2 separate regions of the Homo sapiens genome follow, and region 1 is linked to region 2. The links come from fine-mapping of genetic effects on gene expression. A gene starts in region 2. The other region holds a variant in brackets. All regions are shown on one strand. Distances are between the middles of the regions.

What was found.
Region 1: its variant is fine-mapped to the expression of LAMTOR3 in fibroblasts (GTEx, PIP 0.96).

What each region holds. Positions count from the first base shown.
Region 1 is chr4:99,830,691-99,835,094 of GRCh38, forward strand. The region is part of intron 1 of DAPP1 (dual adaptor of phosphotyrosine and 3-phosphoinositides 1); the gene reads left to right. Among named protein-coding and RNA genes, the nearest start is that of DAPP1, 16 kb to the left of the region's middle. The variant A/G (reference allele first, on the strand shown) is at 1,680.
Region 2 is chr4:99,892,192-99,896,595 of GRCh38, forward strand. It overlaps LAMTOR3 (late endosomal/lysosomal adaptor, MAPK and MTOR activator 3), which reads right to left and starts at 2,236. Exons shown (of 7, transcript NM_021970.4): 1 at 2,144-2,236; 2 at 1,764-1,809. The coding sequence starts at 1,772. It overlaps DNAJB14 (DnaJ heat shock protein family (Hsp40) member B14), which reads right to left. Exons shown (of 8, transcript NM_001031723.4): 8 at 4,057-4,404. RefSeq lists a silencer at 2,335-2,424.

The DNA of each region.
Region 1 (4,404 bases), 62 kb before region 2:
TGTTATATCTCCCTGAACAACTGCGGATCCAAACCCCACCAGACTTTTAATAGGAAAAAGCCAAACTCTCTCTTTCTCTCTCTCTCTCTTTCTCTTTCTCTCTCTCTCTCTCAATCTTCACCTAAGTGCCTAGGCCAGTCCAAGTACTCAATAAGCAGTAGTTGAATAAATGAAAGAATATGGCAAATTATTAATAAGGTTATCTCTGGAAGTTGGATTAAGTAAGAAATTAGCTATTTTCTTTTTTTCTAATTAAATTTGTAGCTAACTAATATAGAAATCTATTTTTTTCATTAGAACAAGCTAAATTAGAAAAATCTGATCAAGCTAAAGTCTCCTTTGAACAAATTCTGGTTCCTTCTACAAAGAAAATCATACTTATGAATTTGGTGTATATTTTTAAAACTCTTATTTTATGTTTTTATATATCTTAATATGTAAGCATATTTTTGTTGTTGATATTTTATAGGGGAACGTGTTAAAACCAAGTGGTAACATTTGGTGCCTGCAACTAGTTCTTCTAACTTTACAATATATGTTGGGATCTATCAACTTTGATGTGTGTGTGTATACACACCTATCTTCAGTGATTCTCAGTGGTGGGGTGTAATTGACATCATGAACAAGACAATTCTTGGTTCTTCAAGACTGTATCATTTGTAGGATGTTAAGCATCCCTGGCACCCTCTCACAAAATAACAATAGCACCCCGACTCCCTGCCCTCATTATCTGGCAACCAAAAATATGCTCACAGCTTTTCAAACACTTTTGGTTAACTTTTTACATAATCTCATCCTTTTAGCACTCCACTTTATTTATCATCTCCATGTCGATGGACATTTAGGATGGCTCTAGATTTCTTACTCTTACAAACAATTCTGCAGTGAACACCCTTGTTCATATTTTCTTCTGCTCATGTATGGGTGTTTCACTAGGTGGAAACTAGAAGAGGAATCGCTGGTCATATGTGGAGGTTCAGTTACACCCTATGTGCTAAATTCCCCTCCAACTTAGACCCTTATCAACAATGGACAGTAATAGCCATTGCCCAAATTCTCCAATACTTAATACTATCCAATCCTTTCATTATAACCGATCTGGTGGATAAAGAAAAATATCACATTATTATTGTAATCTGCATTTCTCTGATTAATAGTGAGATTATTTATTTGAAACACATCTTTCCTCTTCTGAAAAACACATACTTTATCTTCTTTACATGTATATATTTTAACTTTTACTATATATGCTTTATAATCAGAATAAAAGGTAACACAACCTTAAAAAAAAAAAAACAGGTTATATTTCAAGGCCTATACAGATGTTGGCTCATTCAGGGAACCTGATTTCGATCTTTCTTTTTAGAACATCCCTTGGGTACTTTATTCTCTCTTGGATATAGTTTGCAATATGCTTGTCTTATTCTCCTGACTAGATTAATGGTTATTTGTCACCCAGTCTGAGGCTTTTCCATTTTTGTTCCCTTTGACCTGCCTAGCACAATGCCTTGCACAGATTTGAAGCAATGACTGAAGGCAGAAAAGGTTGATTATGGGAAAACTACCAACTTAACTCTATTTTTAACTTTTATGGACACAGTCTTGAATCATCCTTATCAAAGGTGGACATATTTCTACAAAGAATACAAATGTCATTAGGATATACATTCACTCCCCTG[A/G]AAGAAATGCTCATCAGAATGTTCCAGGAAAGGAATGCTTAACTCAATTAAAAGGGGAAGTTTAGGTTTTTGTGGAAAAGCTATTTGGGGAATGAGGATCCTTATTGCACCACTGACATCATGGAATGTAGGTGGCTGCCTGGAAAGCTCTATACTGGGCTTGCCCAGGCCCTGGAGTCTGTAAACTCCTGAAAAGGCAATATTGACTCAGGCAAAGCTGCCACCAAGGAATTGCAGTCTCCAAGAATTTTCCAGACTGCAGCTTAGTGTGATTCTTCTTGCATTATACTCAAGTATTTCTTATGTGTTTATGGTATATAGTTATTGTTTTTTAAATTATCATTAAAACATTATTAGTAAAAACTGTTATCAGGCTATAATTAGACGTCAAAAGAATTCTATAAATGTTTTAAACGCAAACTTCCAATTCTATTGAAAAGAATCCAAAGGAATGTCCAAATCCTTTAAATGTTTTGGAATTTTGCGAATCAAATATTGCTTTACATAAACAACTGTTATCAGGCTATATAATTAGATGTAAGAAGAATTCTATAAATGCTTTAAACACAAACTTCCAATTCCATTGAAAAGAATCCAAAGGAATGTCCAAATCCTTTAAATGTTTTGGAATTTCACAAATGAAGTATTGCTTTAAATAAACAATCTGCTGGCTCGAACTGAAACTTATGCTGAAATGTTTATTATAAAGTTAATTATTGGCAAAATATATCTAAGTTTTTATAACCTTGTGGAAATTTCACCTATCAAAAAGAATTAGAATTTTGGCTTCAGTTGAACTTGAACTTTATTATTGTTTCACTTATAATTCTTCCAATTGTTCTTTGAAAGCATTTTGTAGTGAACAGATTTGAACTTGTCTGGGAATCAGTTCAATGAATGGAGCTGCTTTGGGTAAATAGCTCTGTGTTTATTCTTATAAAATGTGTTTCATGCCATTGCTTTCAGCTAGCAAATATATTTCTAATATAGGATGAAAGCATCTCTGCCCCAAAGATAAAATATGCTAAGAAACATGCATTAGGAAATGCAGATTTAGAAAATAGGTATCTTGGAGACCTATGTAAAAACTTCCTTCCACAGGTGCACTTAGGTTTACTCTTTATTACTCAGGCTAAAAGTTTATGCCACAGGGATGTCTCAGTGGATATCAGTGTGGTTCATGACAACAAGATCCCTTAATGCCAGAATAGGGCTATTCCTCAAAGCTTTTTTACACTATACACACCTCTTTAATAGCATTTAGTTCATCACACTGACATTATTTGTATAATTGCCTGTCTCTCTTTCATCTTCACTGACCTAAACTGTGGTCCCTAGCAGTCAGCAACTGCCTCTGCTGTCTAGCTTTCTGTTATCTGATCTAAATAAAAAGTAACAAAAATTCTATTTGAGCAATAAGAAAGTCATGCCACAGAGGGTAAATTGAAAGTTACGGCTTTTTGGATCTCAATGGCTTCCTGGTAGCAATTAACGCATACTAAGCACTGCTTTAGTTGCCAGGCTTTATGGAGCACATCTCATCCATGTTAATGTGTGCAGGACTCACAACTGGCCTATGCCGTATGCCTATTAGTCATACTATTTTAAACATGAGGAACCAAAGCTCAGATTGGTTAAGTAACATGTCCAAGGCCATACAGCTAGTAAGAGGTACCACCTGGATTGGGACCCAGGCAAAGCAACCCCCGGGGCCACAATCCTAATCATCACATTTCATGCCTCTATGACATCGTTTAAAAGAATGTGAATGACCTGTTATTGGAGAAAAGAAAGATGGTGCAGAGCAATATGCCTAGAAAATAAAAATAATAAATAATGCTCGTATGTTTGTAGAATCAGGAGTGGAGGTACACATCCAATGCCTCTAAGTGTGTAGACTATCTCTTAAGAGGAAGCACAGGAAAATGGTTACCAAGGTGTCCTCTAGGAAAGGAACAGGGAGCCTGAGGGCCCAGGGTGAAGAAAACATGTTTTGCTATGTCTCCTTTTGGACAATTTGAATTTTTTTTTTTTTACCATAGATATATATTACCTTTTCTAAAACACAAATATCATTTTGAATCTCCTTGAGCATTCCCTAGCTCTTCAGATACTTGTCAGGCTGAAACAGTACTTGGTGGCATTTACTTCATACTATAATTCCTTCCATCCAGCTTCGTTTCACTCATGACAATAGCCTTTAGTATTATAGCACAGAGGTTTCGCCGTGAAAAGGTACCACACTTGAAAAAGAGTGTGAGAGACCAAAAAAAGAAGGAAATTGGTCAAAGCCTATTCTTATGGTATTTTGACTTGGACTTTAAAAACCAATTCTGATTACAAAGCAACACTGTATTAGTTTGCTAGGGCTGCTATAACAAAGAACCACAGCCTGGGCAGCTGACTATAAGAAATCGATTGCCTCACAGTTCTGAAGGCTCAAAGTCGGAAATCAAGGTGTCAACAGGATTGGTTCCTTCCGAGGGCCGTGAGGGAGAATCTGTTCCAGGCCTCTTCCTGTGGCTTGGAAGTGACTGTCATGTTCATGCGCTGTTCTCCCTGTAGGCAAATCTATCTCCTGATTTTCCCTTTTTACAAGAGGACACCAGTCATATTGAATTAGGGCCCACCCTAATGACCTCATTTTTTTTTTTTTTGAGATGGAATTGCACTCTGTTACCCAGGCTGGAGTGCAATGGCATGATCTTGGCTCACTGCAACCTCC
Region 2 (4,404 bases):
GCAACTTGGAGTAAGTTAACCAACCTTTTTTCGCTAAGCTTATTTCATTATTTGTTGAATAGGGCTAATATAGAACCTACATCATAAAAGTGTTGTTAAAAGTTTATTGAGAAGATGCATGGATTAGCATACCTAGAAATGGGAAACACATTTTAGCCATAAAATTACATCATAATTTTCATACTAGTGTTTTACATCCTGTTGCTATTGTGTTCACTTGAGAAGACGTTATAAACACCTTTCCATGTTCAAAGATAGACTTTCCACCATCATCTTAATGGTCTTGGGTAAGGTGATATGACCTCTGTAAGACTGTTGTCTCACGTGACTATCACATTATAAAAATATGCCTTCCATTGTTTCATTATTTGTTGAACTCACCTACTCAACAAATAATGAAACAGTGTAAGGCATATTATTATAACGTAATTTTTAAAATATTTTGTTTAAGGACCTAAAATAAATTCTATATGACTATGTGAGGCAACATTTTTTTTTTTTTTTGAGACGGAGTTTCGCTCTTGTTGTCCAGGCTGGAGTGCAATGGCGCGATCTCGGCTCACTGCGACCTCTGCCTCCCAGGTTCAAACGATTCTCCTGCCTCAACCTCCCGAGTAGCTGGGATTACAAGCACCTGCCACCATGCCCAGCTAATTTTTTGTATTTTTAGAAAAGACAACGTTTTACCATGTTGGCCAGGCTGGTCTCGAACTCCTGACCTCAGGTGATCCACCCGCCTTGGCCTCCCAAAGTGCTGGGATTACAGACGTGAGCCACCGCGCCCAGCCCAGTGTTACAGAATATAAAATAAATGACAATGTGTGTCAAGTGTTTAACACGAAACACAGTTAAGACTAAAGAAGTAGAAGACTATTTTATTTTTCTAAGCTGGGGCTCACTGCAACTTCCAACTTCTGGGCTCAAGCAATCGTCTCGCCTCACTTCCAGCATAGCTGTGACTACAGAGGTATCAATGCGCCTGGCTGATTTTTAAATTTCTTTTTGTAGAACGGGGTCTTGCTATGTTGCCCAGGCTGATCTTGAACTCCCGGCCTCAAGTGATCCTTCCATCTCGGCCTCCCAAAGTGCTGAGATTACAGACTAAGCAACCGCATTGGCCAGAAGACTATCTTATTTTGTCTCATTACACTCTCTTATCCCAGGAATTTCACTGACAATTTAGGTATCAATTTTGACCTCACATGGATTAATCAGGTATCTCTTGTTTTGAGCATCCAGCACTTACTATTCTCCAAACCCGACTGATCATTTTATCCTCCTACACACACACACACACACGTTACCATGTTTCTAAAGAGGCATGGGTTAGAAATCATCGTAAATTGCTACAATAAACCAAATGAGATATTGTTATCACTTACTGGAAAAAAGTATTGTGGGTACATGTCCTACTGACCAAATTCTGACAGGAAAAGCAGCAAACCATCATTCAGAATTTCAAATGGTAAATATACAGAGCCTCTCTTATGCCCCAGCTGGACTGGGGAGTAGGGAGAACCTAATTTTCTCAGTCTCAAGCACCTTAGTGTCCTACACCCCCATTCGAGGCAGAAACTCAGGATCCTGCAAATTCATTCATATTAGTCTCCCACTTCAGATATCAGAGAAAATAATTAACTGGGATGGGTGGGGCTGGGAGGATCAAAACAAATTTCTGTTTGGGAAGTTCTACCTCTCCCCGCTCAGTATGCCCCTCAAAATTCCCCACTCTCCCCTTCCTCTTATGTAGGGGTGTCACTCACATCCGCCATGATGAACCCCCTTCTCTCGCAGGATCAATCTCCACGCCTGGAAGAGAAACTCCCGGTGACTCTTCCCTCTTTGGCTTCCTCGTCCTCCCCACCCACAACTTAATACGCGAGATCAGCCCTGGTCAGAACCAGGTAAAACCCCCGCGGTTCTAGGGCTTGGCCCAGCGAGCCCAGTGGGAGTCGGAGTGCCCCAGCACCCCCACAGGTACTCAGCTGGCACACCTTACCTCAGCCCACCCCATCCCTGCCCCTCCACCCCAAAGAGCTAGGCCCAAAGAAAAGAAGAGAGGGTCCTCTCCTTCTGTTTAATCTCACCACCCGCGCCACCTGCGGGACTAGGCCTCAAAACCAGGCAAAGTAGCGCCAGTTACCTGGGGTTTCTGGGCTGCCTGGTTCTCTCCGCTGTCACTTCAGGGACAGCTTTAAAGACAGGTTCCTCCTCAAGCCACCGTCACATGATTCATGACCTCGTCTGCGCTCCAGGAAGCACTTTCTAAGCCGCCGTCGCCCTACGATACGGGATTTCCGGAGGGGCCCGGCGGAAGCTGCGAGGGCGCGTCCGGCGGCCGCGCCCCTCCCCTCCCCCCCGCCCCGCACGCGCCCCGCCCCTCCCCCGCCCACCGCGGGCCGCGTCTTGCGCCTGCGCCTTGTGTCACGGGCCGAAGGAAGTCAGCTGTGGGGTAGATTTGTACGAGATCGCTGGACCCTAAGGAACCCAGAAAATGCAAGCAAGGTTATGTGTTACAAGACATTCTTGTGCAGAGAGGGTGTATAAATGTCATTAGTTTTGCAGGGTCTGTTATCTTAAAACCTTTTCTTGTAGATGAAGAAATTTGAGGGGATGGTGTGATGAGCTGAAGAGCAAGCACCAGATTGCCTGTGATTGGAAGTACCAGGTCCACAGGTTTCTGACCTGTTTCCTAGGCTCTTGTGACTTCCCCATGGGTGCTCTTTACTGAAGGCCTTACCTAGATTGAATGGGGAGGAGCCATGGGTTTTCTGGAGCACTTCAAGCGTCTACTTTTAACATGCAGACACTGATTACGGGCACCTTCTATGTTCCCTTTTACATCAGAATTTTTAAAAATTAGTAAGGTCTCATGTAATAAATAATAATTGAAAAAAATAAAAGGCTTTCCGGGTGCGGTGGCTGACGCCTGTAGTCGCAGCACTTTGGGAGTCCGAGGCGGGACGATCCTTTGAGCCCAGGAGTTCCACAGCAGCCTGGCAAGATAGGACCCCATCTCTACAAATAATAATAATAATTAAGAATTATCCGAACGTGGCGTGCACCAGGTACTCGGGAGGCTGAGGCAGGAGGATCCCTTGAGCCCAGGGTTTGAGGCTGCATCGAGTGGTGATCGCCCCACTGAACTCCAGCTTGTGTGACAGAGCGAGACCCTCAAAAGAAAAGCTTCTTTAGAAATCGCATCCTCTTTCAGCTACCACACTGTTTTTCCTCTACTCCCTTTCATAGCCAAATTTTCAGAAAACTTTAGCCTGGTTTTCAATTGCTGCTTCCATATGTCACAAATCTAATCAGAGTTCTGTTGATTCTACCTCCTATCTTTGAAAACTATTCACCTATCTATATTCCTACCCTACTCCAAGCCATGATCATCTCTCTTTTGACAACAACCTCCTATTCTTCTTACATTCTCTTTTGCCCTCCAGTCTCCACACAGCAACAAAAATGATGTTCTAAAGACCCAAATCACATCATTTAACTCCTTCCTTGAAAATCAAGTTTATTGACTTAGGATAAAGTTCAATATCAGCATCATGGTTTATATATCATTCTTATGGGGATCTGGCCCCTATCTTAATTCTCTCACCTACCCTGGATTCCTTATGCTATGATCATACAAGTTTGTTTTCACTTCCATAAAGATTTTTATCACTTTACCAACTTAGCACGTTCTGCCTGAGATATTTCTCTAGCATACCTTAATCCTACTAATCTCATCTTTTGCATTTTGGCTTAAACTCACTCTCAGAGAAGCCTTCCCTGACCCTCACTGAATAGTTTAGGTCTTCTAGATAAATGCTTTCATTGTACCCTGTAATTTTCTTTGTAGAATTTATCATAATTATAATTATTTACTTGATATTTATTTTCTTTGCTAGATGTAAACTCTTTAAGGTTTTTGTCTTTCTTATTCAGTGATTAATTCCCAGCACCCAGCTCACTGCCTGGGATATAGCAAGCATTGACATACTTGTTGAATAGTTGAATGAATGAAAGAGTGGCCATATTGAGTATAAAACATGATAAAAACAAACATTTTACAGTGAGAACAGACCTTTTTATTAATATATTGAGATAAACTACAGAGACTGAAAGACAAAAATTCATATTTCATTCAGAACATTCATTAAAAATCAAATGCATTTGAGTTCTCACAGAAAATTTTATGTAAGTCTGATATAACATTAAATATTTTACAAATCAGACATTTCATTTTGAAATCTAATTTTTAATCCTGAATGCATTATAGACAAAGTAAGCTCTCCTTTACCAATTTCATTTAACTTATACAAGGCTTCCATTATAATTCCATCAAACCTTAAAAATTACCTGCAGCTTTTAAAAACACATAAAGTAAATGGAAAGAAAGTCTTATGTAGCAAT